Linked DNA regions of Homo sapiens. The protein of the gene in region 1 interacts with the protein of each later gene in a biochemical or structural test. Each region holds a gene or a part of one and is shown on either strand. Other genes may lie near its edges.

The links.
Region 2: the proteins of CD244 (region 1) and INPP5D interact in a biophysical measurement, tested with the Homo sapiens proteins (2 studies listed by IntAct).
Region 3: the proteins of CD244 (region 1) and SH2D1A interact in a biophysical measurement, tested with the Homo sapiens proteins (2 studies listed by IntAct).

What each region holds. Positions count from the first base shown.
Region 1 is NC_000001.11:160,838,887-160,845,923, reverse strand, and holds part of CD244 (natural killer cell receptor 2B4 isoform 1 precursor), read left to right. Parts: intron 1-4,022; coding exon 4,023-4,340; intron 4,341-4,423; coding exon of another isoform or gene 4,424-4,438; coding exon 4,439-4,714; intron 4,715-6,874; coding exon 6,875-6,985; intron 6,986-7,037. UniProt on the Homo sapiens protein: Heterophilic receptor of the signaling lymphocytic activation molecule (SLAM) family; its ligand is CD48.
Region 2 is NC_000002.12:233,161,306-233,168,342, forward strand, and holds part of INPP5D (phosphatidylinositol 3,4,5-trisphosphate 5-phosphatase 1), read left to right. Parts: intron 1-418; coding exon 419-521; intron 522-2,401; coding exon 2,402-2,598; intron 2,599-3,001; coding exon 3,002-3,119; intron 3,120-7,037. UniProt on the Homo sapiens protein: Phosphatidylinositol (PtdIns) phosphatase that specifically hydrolyzes the 5-phosphate of phosphatidylinositol-3,4,5-trisphosphate (PtdIns(3,4,5)P3) to produce PtdIns(3,4)P2, thereby negatively regulating the PI3K (phosphoinositide 3-kinase) pathways.
Region 3 is NC_000023.11:124,363,527-124,370,563, forward strand, and holds part of SH2D1A (SH2 domain-containing protein 1A), read left to right. Parts: intron 1-2,234; coding exon 2,235-2,298; intron 2,299-6,649; coding exon 6,650-6,794; intron 6,795-7,037.

The DNA.
Region 1 (7,037 bases):
AATTTTTTTGATGTATTGAGAGGTTGTCTTTTGTTCATTGGTTTGTTTTTTTTCTTTTTTTTTTTTTGAGACAGAGTTTCACTCTTGTTGCCCAGGTTGGAGTGCAGTGGCGTGATCTCGGCTCACTGCAACCTCCACCTCCTGGATTCAAGTGATTCTCCTGCCTCAGCCTCCCAAGTAGCTGGGATTACAGGTGTGCACCACCATACTTGGCTAATTTTTGCATTTTTAGCAGAGATGGGATTTTGTCATATTGGCCAGGCTGGTCTCAAACTCCTGACGTCAGGTGATCCATCCACCTGGGCCTCCCAAAGTGCTGGGATTACAGGCGTGAGCCACCGTGCCCAGCTTGTCGGTTTGTTTTGATCTTGCTTGGGGTTTGTAACACATTTTACAAATCTATCTTGATGGCTTTTGTCAGTTTTGGGAAATTCTTATCTTTTATCTCTTTTGCTTAGTTCCTCTTTCCTCTCTCGTCTCCTTGCTTTCCAATTACACTTAGTTTAGGGGTTTTGTTTTGTTTTTGCTATATCTCAAATATCTTTTACACTCCTTCTTGTGTATTTTTATCCTTTTGTTTTTCTTTACTTCACTCTGGATATTTTATAACAGTTTTCTAATTCTCTTTTCAATGGCATCTAAATGGCCTTTTTAACCTTTCAATTGAGTTTGTTTTACAGTTATTTTACATTTTATTTCTGTAATTTTCATTGAATTCTTTAAAAAAAATCCAATTTCAGGTAACTATTGCTGCATAATGACCTACTCCAAAATCCAGTAGTTTAAAACAACTACCTATTTAGTTAGTGATTCTGCTAGTTGGCAATTTGGGCTGGGCTCAGCTAGGTGGTTCTTTTGGTTTCCTCTTGCATCAGTCATGCATGTGTGGTCAGCTGCCAGACTGGCCACGGGTGGCTGATTCATTTATTTATTTTTTATTGTTTTTTGAGATTAGGTCTTGCTCTGTCATGCAGGCTAGAGTGCAGTGGCATGATATCTCGGCTCACTGCAAGCTCCATCTCCCGGGTTCAAGCAGTTCTCGTGCCTCAGACTCCCAAGTAGCTGGGGTTACAAGTGTGTGCCACCATGTCTGGCTAATTTTTGTATCGTTAGTAGAGACGAGGTTTTACCATGTTGGCCAGGGTGGTCTCGAACTCCCGACCTTGAGTGATCTGCCGGCCTTGGCCTCCCAAAGTGCTGGAATTACGGGCATGAGCCACCGCACCAGGCCAGGGCTAGCTGATTTAGAATGGCCTTAGCTGTGTTGGCTTATCTCTGTATCATGTGATATCTTATTCTCCAGCAGGCTATTTTAGGCTTGTTCACAGGTCAGCCAGATGAGGTTCCAAGAGAACAAGTAGAAATGTGCAATGCCTTTTCAGATCTAGGCTTAGAACTAGCAGAACATCATTTTTGCTGCGTTTCATCATGAAGACCAGCCCAGTTCCAAGAGACAGGGAAATGAACCCCATTTCTTGATAACAGAAGGAGCTGTAAAGTCACATTGCAAGGACATGGTATTTTTGCATTCTATCACGCTAGTTCTCTGCTGAAATTCTTAAACTTATGTTTTATTTCCTTGAACATATTAGACATGATTACTTTAAAGTTTATGACTGACAACTCTATTATGTAGATGCCCTGTTTGTTGGTTTCTGTTGTCTCTATTCTTCTGTTGGTTTTTGGAGATGTTTCCTTTTCTTATACTTCACTTTGGATATTGTGTATGAAACATTCTAGGAATAATTTAATGCTCTGGTTGATGTTATTTTCCTCTAGTCATAACTTATATTTGCCTCTAGTTGGCAGCCAGGTTAGGGCTACCAGAGATTCCAGATCATTAGTTCAATCCAGGGTTGTGATGATTCAAAATTGAGCTTCAGTTCCTGTGAGGGCTGTTCATTTCTCGTTCACTCTTACTCTTTGGGTATAGCCCTCTGTGGTACCAACCTCAACACTGATGGATTTTATGTATACCCGCTTTCTAATAGGAGGGACGTGAACTTCATGTTCTCTTAGTTCCTTGAGTTTTATTGTGAGCTCTGCTCAGCTTCTCAGCCTTTTAGCTGCCATTTATGGAATCAGAAGATGCCTCCAGGGAACAACAGTCAGAAATGCTGATCTCACCTCTCTGAATTTCCTTCTTCCAGATATTGGCCCCATAATTTTTCACTGCTTTATAAACTCTCTGATAACTTTAACAATGTGCTTTTACATGTTGTTCATTTTTCTTCTAGCTATTTTTAGTGGGAGGATTGGTTAGCATGTCTTAACCTGGATTTTCATTACATAATTAGAATTCCTTCGATGATTTTTTATCTCAACAATTAAGGGGATGCTGTAGAATGAAAGTGTTCTGTTTCCAGATCACAAACTCTCTGGAGTCAGGAATCATGCCTTATACATGAAGAGGCCCTGCCTCTTCAGGGGCTGGATTGCAGTGGGACTCAGTAAGGACTGAATAATTGATGAAGACAGTATATGTCCTCCTTGTAGGTTTAGTAATGATTTTTTCCATTCACCTTTGTTCTCAGGGTCTTTGTGCAATATTTGGTAGGTTGACTTGTTCTTATAAATAGTGCTAGGATCGTAGGAGACAGAGACACAGAGATGCACAGCACAGTCTCTGCTTTTGAGAAGCTTTTGGTTTGCTAATGGGCAGAGCCAGTACAAGTCATATAAATATAAATGGGAACCTATGTGTTTTAGTCTTAGGAGCATCAAGATCAAAGAAACATATTTCATCAAACAAATAGTATTACAAGTCCTTTAATTATTTACTTAGTCTCTTGAGAAAATGCCAGGGTGAAGCTGTGGCTTGGAGAGACTGCATTCATAATGCACTGGACATATAAAAACCCCTCTGTCTCAATTGCTCTCTTCTTAATAGCCTCCATTTTAACGGAGCCACTTGTAAAACTCTCCCCATCTCTTATTTTCTCTTCCAAATCCTCCCTGAGCCTCCCCAACTCACCCAGAGAGACTTTTTAATTTCCTGCACCTGCTGGGCCATGCCACATAGCTTTATTACTAAAAATGGCTGTAGGAACTTCCAGTTTTGTACACTGACTGCACAGAATTGCTCTAGGTTGTCACACCCCCATATTCATTAGGTTTCATCTTGATTCTTTGAGAGGCAAGTGCTGGGATCTGCCTGGGAAGTGTAGTTTTATTTTTAAAATTGTTTTCTAGGGAGAAATTTTTGTGGAGACTTTCTGATCACTGAAAAACTGGCAAACATCAATAAGTAATGACCAAAATCCAATGAACCAAGTGCCACGAGAGAGGATTATGTATTCAGCTCTGTGAGAGGATGGTTGAGGGGCCATGAGTTCAGCTTGGACGGTTAGTCTTCCTGGGCCTGACCATTCAGAATTTCCAACAGTCACTACTTGCCATTAGTAGTTGCCTCAGCACTGCTTGGAGGGAGTCACCTTAGATGTGGTATTTATAGCATCATGGTTAAGAATTTATCCTCTCAAGCCAAACTGCTGTCTTTACAAAGAGTAAACAAATAAGCTCCCTAGCACCTGTGCTCCCAGCTACTAGGGAGGTTGAGATGGGAGGATCACCTCAAGCCCAGGAGTTCAAGGCTGCAGTGAGCTGTGATTGCGCCACTGCACTCCAGCCTGGGTGACAGAGTGAGACCCTGTCTCTAGAAAACAAAACAAAAGAAAACAAAAACATAACACCAAACTGACTAGGTTTCAGGCTCATCATTCTTTTAACTCATCATACCTTTTAACTTAAATAGTTAAAATGTATAAAGTGTGAAACCTGCCTGTCACATAGTAAGTACTCAAGATTTTAGCTATTGGTCTATGGGATCCCTCAGACTAGGGACACAGAGCTTGGGGACAAGGGGAGGCAGATGGAGGGGATATGCTTTAAGGTGCTCCTAGGTTCTGGGCTCCTCATACTCATCCCCACCCAATTGGCTTAAGGGAAGTCACATCCAGCTGCCCACATTGCTCAGGCCTGACACTCTTCCCGCTACTTTCAGCTTGGGTTCTCTTTCCTAGGATGCCAGGGATCAGCTGACCATGTGGTTAGCATCTCGGGAGTGCCTCTTCAGTTACAACCAAACAGCATACAGACGAAGGTTGACAGCATTGCATGGAAGAAGTTGCTGCCCTCACAAAATGGATTTCATCACATATTGAAGTGGGAGAATGGCTCTTTGCCTTCCAATACTTCCAATGATAGATTCAGTTTTATAGTCAAGAACTTGAGTCTTCTCATCAAGGCAGCTCAGCAGCAGGACAGTGGCCTCTACTGCCTGGAGGTCACCAGTATATCTGGAAAAGTTCAGACAGCCACGTTCCAGGTTTTTGTATTTGGTAAGTCTCCAGGACTGTTCATACTGCCCTCTCTGATTCCTATAGGCCTCTAAGTTCTGTATTTCCAATGCCTTTCTGATCAGAATCTCTGCTTCCAGATAAAGTTGAGAAACCCCGCCTACAGGGGCAGGGGAAGATCCTGGACAGAGGGAGATGCCAAGTGGCTCTGTCTTGCTTGGTCTCCAGGGATGGCAATGTGTCCTATGCTTGGTACAGAGGGAGCAAGCTGATCCAGACAGCAGGGAACCTCACCTACCTGGACGAGGAGGTTGACATTAATGGCACTCACACATATACCTGCAATGTCAGCAATCCTGTTAGCTGGGAAAGCCACACCCTGAATCTCACTCAGGACTGTCAGAATGCCCATCAGGGTAAGTGGAACACACTGGGCTATAACAAGCGCTGAAGGTTTGGACCCCGCAACCAGGCTCATGTGCAAGACAGATGTGGTATGAGATAAAATCCCTTGGCCTCCTCTCCCAGTGCCTTGTAGCCCTTCCCAGGGTAGCCCTGGCCTCCAGGCACACAGTTCCTGTAAAGCTAGGCCTATCCTACTCTGGAAAAAAATGTTATCCCTATTTCCTTCTGGGAGATGCAAGCTTTTCTTCTGCAGAGGGAGGGCATAGTTGTTTGGTGAGTGACAGTCCTGAAATGGCTCCTGAACATTATTTTCTTCCTGGGAGAGGCTGATGGAGAACTGTCCTCTCCTCTTGAGTGATAACTTTCTCCAAGCCACATAGTTCAAGAGGTAACTACACTGTGCAGCAGTAGCCTGGAGCAGGAGCATCAGGATGACCCCAGGGATACCTAGATGAGTTCTTGGGCTGTTGCTTATGCTCATCCTAAGAGTTACCTGAGTTACCGTTCCACAACTTTTTATTACATAAACAGGGACTTAATGTACCAGCAGCATGGGCATTATAGGAAAAAAAAACCATACAGCTCTCATTCATAAGGAACTTATAGCCAAATGGGGCAACAAAAATAACTACTTGTGGACAAAAAAGAAACAAGACTGAGGCAGGCCGGGCGCAGTGGCTCCCTGTAATCCCAGCACTTTGGGAGGCTGAGGTGGGTGGATCACAAGGTCAGGAGTTTGAGACCAGCCTGGCCAACATGGTGAAACCCTGTCTCTACTAAAAATACAAAAAATTAGCTGGGCGTGTTGGCGGGCACCTGTAATCTCAGCTACTCAGGAGGCTGAGGCAGGAGAATTGCTTGAACCCAGGAGGCGGAGGTTGCAGTGAGTCAAGATCATGCCACTGAACTAGGACACTGGCTTCATCATTCAGAAGCTCTGTGATCTCTTAGAGGTCAGGTGTGGTGGCTCACACATGTAATCCTAGCACTTTGGGAGGCTGAGGCAGGTGGATCACTTGAGTCCAGGTGTTTGAGACCAGCCTGGACAATATGGTGTAATCCCATCTCTATTTAAAAAAAAAAAAAAAAGAAGCTCTGTGATCTCTGGCAGATTCATTAACCTCTCTGAGCCTCAATTTTCTTCCCCCCTTGAGTAAAATGGGGGTGATAATAAGTACCTCACAGGATTGCTGTTAAGAGTAAATGAGATAATGTTTGCAAAGAGCCTTGTCAGCCCTTGGAACACTTAATTCCTTTTCCTTCCTCTTGTTGGCTGGATTATATATCAGGCTACATGTGTGACACAAATCTTTTAAGTAGAAGTTCAAATGAGGAAGAGCCATGAAGGAAGGAATAGTGGAAAAGTGAGACGGAAAACTTGCCTGTACAATGAGTATTTTTTGAGTTAAAAACAAAGGAATGGATAAATGTAACATTTGTTGTGCTACATGTCCCTCAGTATCCATGACGAATTAGTTCCAGGACCCACCTCGCAACCACAGATGCCAAGATCCACGAATGTTTAAGTCCCTGGCATAAACAGGTGCAGTTTTTGCATATAACCTATGCACACATCCTTCTGTATACCTTACTTAAGTCACCTCTAAATTAGTTATAATGCCTGATACAATGTAAATGCTATTTAAATAGTTGTTATACTGTATTGTTTAGGGAATAATGACAAGGAAAAAGGCCTCTACATATTCAATACACATGCATTTTTTTTCCCTGAATATTCTGGATCCACAATTCATTGAATCCACATTGTGGAACTCAAAACTTTGGAGGGCAACTGTATTAGATCATGTAATTAACCCCTATAGGTAGATAACGTTATCCCCTTTTACAGGTGAGAAAATCTAAGAGGCTCTGAGGCATCTTCCAAAAATAAGATGACTTGAGAGGCCCAGAGAGGTTAAATAAATAGTGCAGAGCTCACAGGGTTAGAATTTGAGCCAGGCCTGTCTGATATATCTATGCTCTTGGCATCACTCAGAGGAGGTTAACCAAATGAGCAAAGAGAAAACCTTGACCGTGAGTTCTCAGAGCACGAGGCAATCAGCCACAACACAGAGAAAAGTGGGTTTTGAGGCAGCCCCTGCAGCAGGCAGGTGGGAAGGAAGAAGAGAGCGAGCTGACAGCTCAGTTCTCACGCCTTCTGTATTCCTCAGAATTCAGATTTTGGCCGTTTTTGGTGATCATCGTGATTCTAAGCGCACTGTTCCTTGGCACCCTTGCCTGCTTCTGTGTGTGGAGGAGAAAGAGGAAGGAGAAGCAGTCAGGTGAGTGGAAGGTCCTTAGGGTGGTGCTCCTGCCTGAGGCCTTGGATCCTGT
Region 2 (7,037 bases), on another chromosome or scaffold:
GGTCTCGAACTCCTGACCTCAGGTGATCCACCCACCTCGGCCTCCCAAAGTGCTGGGATTACAGGCATGAGCCACCACACCTGGCCCTCTGATACATTATTAATGAATCTCCTAAGGCTGGACAGTAAGGTTGCTTCTGATTTTTTTCTGTGCTGAGGCCTGTGCTGCAGAGCCGTGACAGGGTTGGACTTCTGCGCAGCTCCTGATCACTTTGTTAAAGTCGCACCTTTGCAGGGGAGTGTCTAGGCCAGAAGCCACTCGCTTATGACTTTGGACACATGTTTCCAGGTTGCTGTCCTGGAAGTTCACACTGATTTACGCTCCTCTCAGTTTTCTTGAAGCTGACCAAGTCCTTTGCAAAGTGTAATGTGCAGGGAGGCAGAGGCCTTTCTAAGTCTGTCTGCCCTTCCATCCCTAGAAGAGAGAAGGCTTCTGCCAGCTCCTGCAGCAGATGAAGAACAAGCACTCAGAGCAGCCGGAGCCCGACATGATCACCATCTTCATCGGCACCTGGAACATGGGTGGGTCCGCGCGCCCCCTCCCTGCAGTCACCCCCTCTGCTTCTGCTTTCCTGACTCAGGCATCCTCAAGGTGGGGTGGAGTGACGACATCCATGTCCCCTTCCTTCCTGCCCCAGGGCCCTGCCCCTAAGCCCCAGCCCACCCGCACAACCTCCTTCCTGAGGAATTCCACCCTTTTCCTGAGATGATGGGTAAGAAAAACGAGCTTTGGGACTATCGTACCCCAAGAGCAGCTGGCGTGGGTTACTCTGTATGTCTAAATTGGAAAGTTTTAGGGAAAGAGTCTGAATATCTAGGTGAAGGGGCTCATGGGAACCCTGCCAGCCCTAGGCAGCTCACCAAGGGGCCCCAGGCCTGAGAGAAAGAAGTCCACCCTGAGTAGGGTTGCCAGATTTATCAGGAGAGAGACAGAGAGAGACAGAGAGATAGGTACGTAGACAAAGGATGCCCAGTTAAATTTTAACTTCATAGAAACAATTTTTTTTAGTATATGTTTAGCTACAAACAAATAAATACTAAATATATATGCTCATAGACATTATGCTGAATATATAGTATATATACATATGCTAAATAAGTGTAATTATTATATTAAATATGAATTATACTAAGTAATATTAGTTTAAGCATACAGCTAATAATATACTAAATATATGCTAAATATATTTTGTATTAAACATATATATTGTGTATTTACTAAACACATGCACTCTACTAAATATAAATAATACTAAATAATTTTTTAGTGTAAGTGTTCAGGTAGAAATAAATTAGATAGAAGACATCCAGATAAACTTATTCTAAAAACTACCAGTTTATCTGAAATTGGAATTTCACTGGGTGTCGTGTGTCCCCTACCCTTGTCCTGAGAGGAGTCTGGGAGGAAGAGGGTGAGCAGTGGCTGGCAGGGGCCTCCTGGAAGTGAAGTGACAGCTTGTCACTCGTGTCCCAGGGCCACAGCAGCCGTGGAGTAGAGCCCGGGCCAGTGCCCCAGGGGGTCACTTGTCCCCTTCGGTCCCTTTCAGTGTTTCTAATAAGAGACAATAGTCTGCCTGATCTCCTCCCTCTGGACATGGTCAGGGATGTCCATGACACAAGGGCAGGGGTGCCCTTCCCACAGAAGAGTATGGAAGGAGCCAGCTGAGGCCATGCCGCAGGAGGGCCGGGGACCCACCAGCCCGGGGGTTCGGGCACCCACTTTGAGCCTCTTGGGGGAGCAGAATTTAGCCACAGTCCATTTACTCCAATGCTTGGCTTCTTTGCACTTGTAAGGCAAGAAGCTCATCTCTTTGAGGAACAAAGTTTGCTCATCCTTCAAGGGCATTGTAGGGAGAACCGTTCAAAATTTCTTGATTGAGCTTCTTCAACTCAGTTTTGAAATGGGAATGCGGAGGAGTTTCCACACTCTCCCGTTTCTCTGGCTCACACCCAGGCATCCCTCCGCTCTGGGCTGGGATCTGTCTTGCAAGGGAGACTTTGTTGTCTCCCAACAATGGGTTAGAACCCGCCATCTAAAACTTGTCAGTTCCCTTGGCTGTCTTGAGAATAGGATGTGAGTTCCTTGAGGGACAGGACTGTGTCTCAATTATCGTAGCCTCAAAGTGCAGGACAGTGTCTGACATCAGGGAATCTTCTGGTGTTTCTATACCTTGAAACTTGACATTACGTTTAAAAAGAGGCTTAACTGAGCTCTAGCCCTAACCGACATCCTGGGTGAGGTTGGCGCCCAGGCCTCCATTGCAGGCATTTCTTTGGGCTGCCTGGATGGTCTTGTGTAATGACGTGACCTCCCTCACACTCCCGCCCTCTGTTTTGAATTCTCCTAATGCTTTGACTCGATGTGCCTTTGACTCACTTGGTGTTGGGTTTTGCTGTTGAAGGTAACGCCCCCCCTCCCAAGAAGATCACGTCCTGGTTTCTCTCCAAGGGGCAGGGAAAGACGCGGGACGACTCTGCGGACTACATCCCCCATGACATTTACGTGATCGGCACCCAAGAGGACCCCCTGAGTGAGAAGGAGTGGCTGGAGATCCTCAAACACTCCCTGCAAGAAATCACCAGTGTGACTTTTAAAACAGTGAGCAGCTGGCTGCACGCTGGGTGGGCTTCCGGGATAGAATCTTTGCTCGGCTGGGCTGTCTCAGAGGCAAGGGTGGGCTCAGCCTATCAGCTCTCAGTTTTCAAGGATGTCTGGAGGCCCCCACTGAGAGATGCGTCTGTATTCAGAAATAAATGGGATCTGTGGGGTATTGCTGAAAACCACTGAGTCCTCTATCTTCCCACCCTTGGTCAGCCCCGGTTCTCATCTTTAGGATGTTTTGTCTCGCCTATCAAGCATCGCTGGGAGTCCCCCGAAGGGTTGGGATTACAGACAGGATACCCCATACCCAGGGGCTGCGGCTGGGGCTGGGTGTGAATCACTGTGCCCTGGTTCACACCCTACACTTGGGCCGAGTATTGCAACGTTGTCCTCCCACCAGGTCGCCATCCACACGCTCTGGAACATCCGCATCGTGGTGCTGGCCAAGCCTGAGCACGAGAACCGGATCAGCCACATCTGTACTGACAACGTGAAGACAGGCATTGCAAACACACTGGGTGAGCAGGGCGGGGACCCTGTGTTCCTCCCACACCCTCTGCCTCAACTCTCGCGACCACATCATCCTGATCCCACCAGTAGTTCCCCGGGTTAAAAACAGAGAGCCTCACATCCTCAGATCCTGGCTCAGTCCTCAGCAAATAGGGGTGATTGGTCTCCCTGGCTGAAACTCACTCAGGGTCTACACCAGCAGTCCCAGGGATCTAGCTAAAATGCAGGTTCCGACCCAGTAGATCTTGGGTGGAGCTCAGGGTTCCAAGTTTCTGACAGGTTCCCAGGCGACTTGAGCGCTGCTGGTCGGCCCGTGGGACCCATTTTAAGAAGCAAGAACCTAGAAGAGGCATTGGCCAACTTTTGCAGGAAAGGGAAGGGCCTGACAGTAAATATTTCAGGCTTTGCAGGCCACTCAACACTATTCCTCTCTGCCTTTCTGGTGGGAAAGCAGCCATAGGCAACCCAGAAAGCGAATGGGAGTGACTGTGTTACCAGTGAGACCTTCCTTACAAGCACAGGCGGGAGGTGGCTGGCCCCTGCCCTCGGTCCCTGTGCACCAGGTTGGATCTGGAAACGCTGGTGTCAGTGGAGAGTTGCTGGCTTCAGAGAGCAGTAACAAGGGCAAGAAGTCTTCATAAGTGTAGGAGTGCAAGCCTGTGTGTTTGTGTAGGATGTGTGTGTGAGTAGGTCTGTGTATGTGAGTTTGTGTGAGTGACAGCGTGCATGTGAGTGTGTGAGCCTGTGTAGGTGTGTGAGAGTTTATGGATGTGTGTTTGTGAGCATGTTTATGTGAGTCAATGTGTGAGCGTACCACCCCATATCTATGAGTGTGTGTCTATATGTGTGTGAATCTATGCATGTGTTTGAGTGTGTCTATGTGAGTCTATGTATGTGAGTCCGTGTATGAGTGTACCACCCATATCTATGTGTGTGAGTGTCTGTATGTGTGAGTCCATGCATGTGTGTTTGTGTGTGTTTATGTGAGTCTACATATGTGAGTCCGTGTGTGAGTGTACCACCCCGTATCTATGAGTGTGTGTGTGTCCATGCATGTGTTTGTGAGTGTATTTATGTGAGTCTATGTATGTGAGTCCGTGTGTGTGTACCACTCCATATCTATGAGTGTGTGAGTGTCTATGTGTGTGTGTCCATGCATGTGTGTTTGTGAGTGTGTGTTTATGTGCATCTGTGTGTGAGTGTACCACCCCGTATCTATGAGTGTGTGAGAGTCCATGCATGTGTTTGTGAGTGTGTTTATGTGAGTCTATGTATGTGAGTCCATGTATGAGTGTACCACCCCATATCTATGAGTGTGTGAGTATCTGTGAGTCCATGTGTCTGTGTTTGTGAGTGTGTGTTTATGAGAGTCTAGGTATGTGAGGGTGGGTGTCCGAGTGCATGTGCATAAGTGCTAGAGCCTCTCTGTGTGTTTGTGTGTGTGTGTGTGTGTGCCCGTGTGTGCACGTGGGGTGGTATACACACAGGGCTCCAGGGCTGGCATCAGGGGCGAGGCCAGTGGTTTTTGGTGGTTGGAGTCAGTGGAGTCAGGAACAGGACAGAGTCCCAGAGATAACAGGAAATAGAAGAATTGCTGCAATCGAACGTGCAAAGCTCTCTCAACTTTTCTGCTGACAAACCGCAAACTGCCCGCGTCCACCCCCACTCGTCCCCCTTCCTTCCTGCCACAGTAGAAGGGTGGGGCTGGCGTGGCTATCCTGGCTGCGCCCACGCCCTCCTGCTGCCCAGCAACCGCCCCGGGTGTGGATTCCATCGCTCCCTGGGCTTCCAGTCCCTCCCACCAGCCCCTGCCCCGCTGTGCAGAATATGCTCGGACCTCCTAGGGCCACATAAAACCACCCCCTCAGCCAGACCAGTTCCTGGTCATCCTGGCCTCAGGGCTGGGCACTGGGTCAGCTTCTGAGCAGGCAGGAGCTCTGCTCATGTGGACCTGACACACATTGCATGAGCAGACGGGAGGAAAAGAAGCCAGTTCCTGGGAGGGAGTGCACTGGCGAAGGAGTGTGTGGCGTGGGCAGAGAGCAGAGGTCAGGGGCCTCCCTGAGAAGGGCAGTGCGACTGGCATCTGAGGGGTGAGGAGAAAGGCCTGGCCAGAGTCCCAGCTTTATGACCATTGCAGGGCAGCTTCTGGGCTGTGCAGCTCACACACACCTTCCCCTCCTTCCCCTCCTTCCCCTCCTCTCTGCCCTGGGGCCAGCCTCCCTCCTCCACTCCCCTGAAATGGCTCCCAGCCATAATTAGCACAGGACAGAAACAGCAAATGCTGGTCGGTGTGGTAGGCTCACGCCTGTAATCCCAGCACTTTGGAAGGCCGAGGCCGGTGGATCACTTGAAGTCAGGAGTTCGAGACCAGCCTGGCCAACATGGTGAAATCCCATCCCACTAAAAATACAAAAATTAGTTGGATGTGGTGGTGCGCACCTGTAATCCCAGCTGCTTGGGAGGCTGAGGCAGGAGAATCGCTTGAACCCGAGAGGTGGAGGTTGCAGTGAGCTGAGATCATGCCACTGCACTCCAGCCTGGGTGACAGAGCGAGACTCTATCTCAAAAAAAAAAAAAAGTCCTTAGAACAACCAAGGCCTTTCTAAGAGTGTGCCCTAAGCAAGGCTGTGTGCTGAATGCTTTGAATCATCTCATTTGATATAAACACCCTGCTAGGCACGATGGCTCATGCCTATAATCCCACACTTTGGGAGGCCAAGGTGGGAGGACCTCCTGAGACCGGGAGTTTGAGACCAGCCTGGGCAACATAGGAAGGTACCATTTCTACAAAAAAAAAAAAAAAAAAAATGGCATAGTAGTGCATGCCTGTGGGCCCAGCTACTCAGGAGGCTGAGGTGGGAGGATCACTTAAATCTGGGAGGTCAAGGCTACAGAAAGCCATGATTTTGCCACTGCACTCCAGCCTGGGCGACACAGACTTTGTCTCAAATTAGAAAAAAAAATACAAACACTCGGGCAGGGACTCTTATTATTCCCATTTGCAGATGAAGAAACAGAGTCTATGGAGATGATCCATAACTTGCCCAAGGCCCCGGGATAAGAATGTGGTGGGCAGGGATTGAAACCAGGCTGTCGGGACTGGAACCAGTTGCTCAGTTCCAGGTCACCCTCCCAGGTTGCGGGCAGAGGGGCAGGGCTGGAGAGCTAGGTGCAGTGGAGAGGGCTGGAGGGCAGAAAGCCTGTGTACTCCCCCACTGGGTCCTGACAAGGTTGAGCCAGGTGATATCCAGGGGTCCCTTCAGCCTATGGCCTATCCAGAGCTGTCCAACCAAAAGAAAATGGGGCCGGGTGCCGTGGCTCACGCCTGTAATCCTAGCACTTTGGGAGGCTGAGGCAGGCAGATTGCCAGAGCTCAGTAGTTTGAGACCAACCTGGGCAACACGGTGAAACCTCGTCTCTACTAAAATACAAAAAATTAGCTGGGTGTGGTGGTGGGTGCCTGTAGTCCCAGCTACTCCTGAGGCAGAGACAGGAGAATTGCTTGAACCTGGGAGACGGAGGTTGCAGTAAGCAGAGATCGCGCCACTGCACTCCAGCCTGGGAGACAGAGTGAGACTCTGTCTCCAAAAAAAAAAAAAAAAAAAAGAAAGAAAGGAAGAAAAGAAAATGATGGGAGCCAAATAGATCATAAATAAATAGATTTATGATCAAAATAGATTACAATTTGATTTATTACAATCAATAGATCAAATTTTCTAGTAGCCACATTAAAAAGAAAACAAGTGAAATTAATTTCAATAATAGATTTTATTGAATTTCATACATCCAAAATACAATTATTTCAATAGATATTTAATGTAAAAGGTTATTAGATATTTTACAGTCTGTGTTTCTTACCAAGGCCACAATTCCAATGTGTATTTTACACTCACAACCTGTCTCATTTTGTACCAGCCACATTT
Region 3 (7,037 bases), on another chromosome or scaffold:
CAGCACAATGAATTACTTATGTATTTGTGATGACACTGGTATAAACAAACCGACTGTGCTGTCAGCTGTATAATAGTATAGCACAGGCCAGGTGTGATGGCTCGCACCTATAATCCCAGCACTGTGGGAGGCTGAGGTGGGTGGATCACCTGAGGTCAGGAGTTCAAGACCAGCCTGACCAATATGGTGAAATTCTGTCTCTACTAAAAATACAAAAATTAGCCAGCCATGGTGGCATGCACCTGTAGCCTCAGCTACTCGGGAGGCTGAAACAGAATTGCTTGAACCCGGGAGGCGGAGGTTGCAGTGAGCTGAGATTGCACCACTGCACTCCAGCCTGGGCAACAGAGCGAGACTCTATCTCAAAAAAAAAAAAAAAAAAAAAAAAAAGAAAGAAAAAGAAAAAGAAAAAAATGTATAGCACAGACAATTACATACAGTACACAATACTTGATAATGATAACAAATTACTGTGTTACTGGTTTATGTATTTACTGTACTATACATTTTATCATTATTTTAAAATCTACTCCTACTTATATAAAAAAAAGTTAGCTGTAAAACAGCCTCGGGCAGGTCCCTCAGGAGGTATTCCAGAAGGCATTCTGGAATATGAATATCATAGGAGATGACAGCTCCGTGTGTGTGACTGCACCTGAAGATCCTGCAGTGGGATAAGATGTGGAGGTGGAAGACAGTGATACTGATGATCCTGACCCTCTCTGTAGGCCTAGGCTAATGTGCGTATTTGTGTTTTAGTTTTTAACAAAAAAGTTTAAATAGCAAAGAATACATAAAATAAAAATTTTGAAACAGAGAAAAGCTTATGGAATAAGGATATAAAGAAAAACAGTTTTGTACAGCTGTACAATGTGTTTGTGTTTTAAGCGAAGTGTTATAAAAGAGTCAAAAAGTTTAAAAAAATTTACAAGTTTATAAAGTAAAAGAGTTGAAGCTAAGATTAATTTATTATTGAAGCGATACAGTTTTTTTTTTTTGAGACAATCTCGCTCCGTCACCCAGGCTGGAGTGCAGTGGCGTGATCTCGTCTCACTGCAACCTCCGCCTCCTGAGTTCAAGCGATTCTCCTGCCTCAGTGCCTCAGCCTCCCAAGTAGCTGGGACTACAGGTGCGTGCCACCATGCCTGGCTAAGTTTTTGTATTTTTAGTAGAGATGGGGTTTCGTTGTGTTAACCAGGATGGTCTCGATCTCCTGACCTCGTGATCTGGGAAATATAAATATTTTAAAATAAATTTAGTGTAGCCTAAGTTTACAGTGTTCATAACATTCTAGTAGTGTAATGTCCTAGGCCTTCACATTCACTCACCACTCACTCATTGACTCACCCAGAGCAATTTCCAGTCCTGCAAGCTCCATTCATGGTAAGTACTCTCAACAGGTATAGCATTCTTTATCTTTTATACTATATTTTACTGTGCCTTTTCTATGTTTAGATAGGTTTAGATACACAAATACCATTATGTTACAATTGCATACAGTATTCTGTACAGTAACATGCTGTACAGGTTTGTAGCCTGGAGTAATAGGCTATACCACATAGCCTAGGTGGTATACCATATAGGTTTGTGTAAGTACAGTCTATGATGTTTGCACAACAACGAAATCACCTAATGATGCACTTCTCATAATGTATCCCCCTTGGTAAGTGATGCATGACTGTGGCAATATTATATTGCTATACATTATAATAGTAATTTTATAAAAATATAGTTATATTCAATTTATAGTATTATATCCTTATACTATTGCCATTATATTTATAACAAATATTATTAATATTAATAATTATTTATGTGGGCCTGATAGTGTATTATCCCAGTGAAATGTTTTCACCTTAAGTTTCGATATGTACTTAAAAATAAGTCTATTGTTTGTTAAAACTATCTAATAATTCATGGTTTTATCAATTACAACAGGTCCCTGTTGTAGTTTCTTTCTGTCCAAATGGTCTCTCAACTTGACAAATCTTTAGGAGCATGAATTTCCATATTTCAAAAAATGAAAAGATAAAGAAATCTCACTGGAAACTGTGGTTGGGCAGATACAATATGGAGACAAGTTAGATTCACTATGCTTTACTTCCTATGAATGCAATGACACCATATACGTGTGTCCTAGTATATGTGACATTTATATGTAATATTAAGCTCAAATTTAAAGTATCCATTGTTCTTTTGGAATCTTTCAGTAATGGAAGTTTATTCTTTCACAGGTATCACGGTTACATTTATACATACCGAGTGTCCCAGACAGAAACAGGTTCTTGGAGTGCTGAGGTATAGTTGTATTTATTTTTGCTTCTGGGGGTGTCAAGGAGGTATTTGAAATTTAGGCTGGTTTTATAAAAGAGCAAATTATACATTATTAAGTATTCATAAGGTTTAAATCTCTAAAGCTCCAATCCAAAATTGTTCATGGATCATTAAGAAAGCTTTAGAGAATTTTGGTCCCAGTCCTGTTTAGCCATCATTTTGCAGAGTTGTATGACTTTGGGAGAAAGATAAAAAAGTTGAAGAATTATGTCAAACTTTTAGTGACTATGTGAAATCTTAGCATATCAAAAGTAGGTAAAATAATTAAATGAACAATTATTTACCAAATGATACCAATATGAGTATTGGTATCGTGGGAGATTAAAAAACATGATGCTTATTTTCTAAGAGACTACAATATACTTGGGAAGTTATAACTTGAAATTAAACAGTTATGAGTGGAAGAAACTAGGCTTTGTCAACAGGTGAATCTGGGTTCCAGGTCTGGTCTCCCCTCCTCTCTGATAGGTCTATGATCTTGGGCAGGTTACTTGACTTTTCTGTGAGCCAGTTTCTTCATTTGTAAACGGAGCCTAAGAATCCTCCCTTATGCACAAGGCTCAATTTGAAAAGTAAATAAGATAACACACATAAAGAAGCTGTTTGCCACAAGGCCTGGCACACAGTGAGCCCTCAAAAAAGTGAACTCCTGAAAATTGCCACAACTCCTATTAATAACTCAATCTGTGCATTTAAAATTTTCTGAAGTCTAGACTTCAAGAAGTTAAAATAGCTCTCACGTTTACTGATTTATCAGTAAGTTGGAAAGTATAAATTACAGACCACAAATGTTTTGAACCACTGAGATGAATTAGGCCAAGTTTTCAAACACACTTTTGCTGTATTATGTAAGGATCATTAAAACTATAATACTAACTAAAGATAAAGTTATACCATTTCTAATTGAAACTATTTATACCTGTTTATTTAAAAAATTCTCTGTATCACTGCAGAGATGATTGAATAAGAAATTAAACTTTATTATGAAGAAAGTTATGTGTAAAATATACTGACAAACACACACACACACACACACACACACACACACACACACACACACGTTTGTATATTATTTCGCCAGAAATAGCTCTTCTCCCCAGAGAAATACCCTTCAGCTGCTGAAGAATATTATGTAAGGAAAGGATCTTAAATGCTTAGGGTTTAACAACTTTGTTTTTCAACTTGTTTTCCTGCATTTTGAGTATAACATCATATGAGATTGTTACATGCTTGTGATCATGTTAAAGAAGAGAGGGCTTATTGAACACAAATGCCCCCTCATCCTGTTGTCTGATCTGACGTTGTTTATGTAATAATATTGTAATTTTCTGCACCAAGAGAGCAGAAGATTGGCATGACATCCGCAAATAGAAAATAGTTTAAAAAATTCTTTAATTTTTGAAATGCATATTGCATTTTTTTCTATCTACTAAATTTACCTTCTTAGCAGTGCTTTTCTAAGGTGAAAATTAAACTAGTGTATATTCTCAGAGCTCATACCACCTGACTGGAAAAAATTTCTCTAGAGCATATTGAAGACCAGCTGTGATCTAATACATGTTTCCATGGATAACTAAGAGGTGACAGTATGGGAGATTTGCAAATTTGAAGAATAGCTGAGTTCAGTGACAGGATGAGAGTTGTCAGTGGTACAATTCTTGTGATAAATGTATTTTCGAAACTGGGTAAATGATAGATATTAATACTGATTTTTGGAACAATGTTTTAGTTTGCCATGCTGCAGGAAAAATCAAGGCAGTAGCATGCCACCATCTGTGCATATATTATGCTAGAAATCTAGGTAAGTGAGATTTGTTTTAAAGAGTGTAATGAAATCAAACCCTGGCCCCACTGAATTATGAAAGACAGATATCATGTGTTTTTCTAGTTTTAGAGAGACTTTTAGGTTAAATCTTTGCCTAGTGTATTATCTTATATGACTCAGACTAAAAGTTTGTTACATTGTTAATTTAGATAATTCCACAATCTACTTTCATTTATTAATATGTGATTTGTTGGCAATACATTATTAAAAATGTACTGACATCACCCTGTTGACATCAGTGTCTTCAGGCTTTACTGGGTATATGATCAGGAGATCAGCAGATGTTAAATAATTGTCCTTATTAATCTAAGTAAAACACTGTAAAATAGGCCAGTCATTTGCTTATGAAACATCAGATCCCCAATTCAAATAGCTTCCATACTTCCAGTGCTATTATTCATTTCTGTTAGCATGGATAATCAAGTGTTAGCTACATATCAGTACCCATAAAAATGTTGCTTCTCTGTTTTGTTTTGTTTTGAGACAGAGTCTCACTCTGTCGCTCAGGCTGGAGTGGTGGAATGGCCCGATCTCGGCTCACTGTAACCTCTGCCTCCCAGGTTCAAGTGAGTCCTGTGCCTCAGCTTCCCAAGTAGCCGGGATTGCCACCACACCTGGCTAATTTTCATATTTTTAGTAAAGCCAGGCTTTCACCATGTTGCCCAGGCTGGTCTTGAACTCCTGACTTCAGGTGGTCCGCCGGTCTCAGCCTCCCAAAATGCTGGGATTACAGGTGTGAGCCACTGTGCCCGGCTATGCTTCTGTTGATAAATGACTTTACAAGCCACAAGAAGCTAAAAAGATGTGTGGTTTGAAATCTTTCCACACTTTAGGTGTGTATAGTTTTTCTTCTGTTTGATGACCCTAGCTTCGCTAGATCCTGTTTGGCCCAGTTCTAATCTGAAAGGCAAGAGACTGGGTCCTGGGATTCTGAGCCAGTTCTGCCTCTGGTTGTCTGTGTGACTTTGGGCAAGCTGATTAATTTCTTTGCATTCATATTTTCTTATCTGTCAAATGGGAATAACTGAATCAGCCAATAACTGCCATTTTGTGAGGAAATAGTGAAGGCAAGAGATAGGAATGTGCTTTGAAAATGAAAAAGTGCACTGAGGAAAGTATAAGGAGGCAATTTGTGCCTATGACCTGCATTTGCAATTTGGAGACTCTATCTTGGAACCAACGAACTGTTTGGACTTCTGCAAGAATGGCCATGTTATTTTGGATGAGTTCTCAATCGAGCTTTAGGAAGGTGGAGGGTAGGTGAGAGAGTGGGGTGGAGCTGGGTGAGAGAGTGTTCTACATCTACTGTGAACATATGGGGGAACACTAATATAGAGCTAAAAAGAATTTTTGTCATGTTTTCAATGAAAAATTACCCCAACATAAGGAAATGACTGAGAGTTACTATGGATAGTGTAGTATGCTATCTTCAGCATACCACTATCTAGCTGACAGAAGTCTTCATGCTCGCCTTCATGTTTTCTCATTAAATGCTAAAAAAACAAACAGCTCCCACCTCAAAAATCTACCAGATGGAATAGCTGAAAAACAACTTAAAAAAAAAACTAGTCATTGTTCAATTGCTCATAGCAATACTATTTTATTTTACGTAAAATGACAGGTTTGAGCTGATGCCTGAAGCTTGGCTCATAAGCTTTTGCAGGAAATTGTTGTTGATTTCAGGCAGTGTCTTTGCAAGACAACTGATGTCAGGAAAGGAACACATTTTAATAGTCACCTGCAAATAACTGTCTCTTTAAAAACACACAAATAAATAAATAAAGGTGACCTTATATAGTCTTTCATTTTCATGTCATAGAGAAAACCTTGTTACAGTGACGTGCTGATGGAGAGAACAATTTTGGGAGTATAGGGAAGTTTCCCAAGGAGGAAAAAATTTAATGTGAAGAATGGCGCAGGAAATATTGTGAGGTGAAAGAGTATGAGGACTGAACTAGCCGTGCACTGTGTGCATCATAACAGCCAATTTTTAATTTCCTGTGTAGCATTTTATATTGTGGGATGATGGCAGGGAGGATGGGTTGTTGGTTTTTCTTTTGTTGTTGTTCCTCAGGCTTTTTATTAATGACCTGTAGGATCTGTTTTTTTGTTTTTGTTTTTGTTTTTTCCTGTTTAACTGCATCCCCTCTGTTGGTGAATTCATTGTGGGTAATGGCCTGTATACCCTTAGAGGTTTGAGATGTCTGATGGGGAGCAGGCAGGAAGGGCAGGGCAATGAGCAAGAGCTTGTACAAACTAATACCACCTTTGGGAGAACTGAAATGACAGCTCATTAGCTCCTCTTGCAGGGAAATTCAGCCAACCAAAGTAAGCTCTTCTGGAATGTTGTTTTTCCTTCTTCCTTATGTTTTCAAATATTTCAACAAGTTACACAAATGTTACTTCTCTTAGCATCCCTAGCACATTTTGTAGGTCTTTTTGTATCATTATGAGATAGGTAAATAATTTGCTTGGCCTTTTATTTTCCAGACAGCACCTGGGGTACATAAAAGATATTTCCGGAAAATAAAAAATCTCATTTCAGCATTTCAGAAGCCAGATCAAGGCATTGTAATACCTCTGCAGTATCCAGTTGAGAAGAAGTCCTCAGCTAGAAGTACACAAGGTACTACAGGTATGATTTCCTCTTAATTTTTGACAGGGTTTGGAAGCTCAGAGTTATGAGTCAACCTGTTCATAACCATATAATCAATTAGAAGTTATGTAAGAAAAATGCAGTGAGAAAGTAGATGTAGCCAGCAAGTCAAATGAGAGGTGACAATTTATGTGCTATAATTTTCATCTATTATTCTAATAACTTTTAATAAATCTCTGTAAAAACATCAAAAATTCTATAAGCCCATAACATTTTAACTGC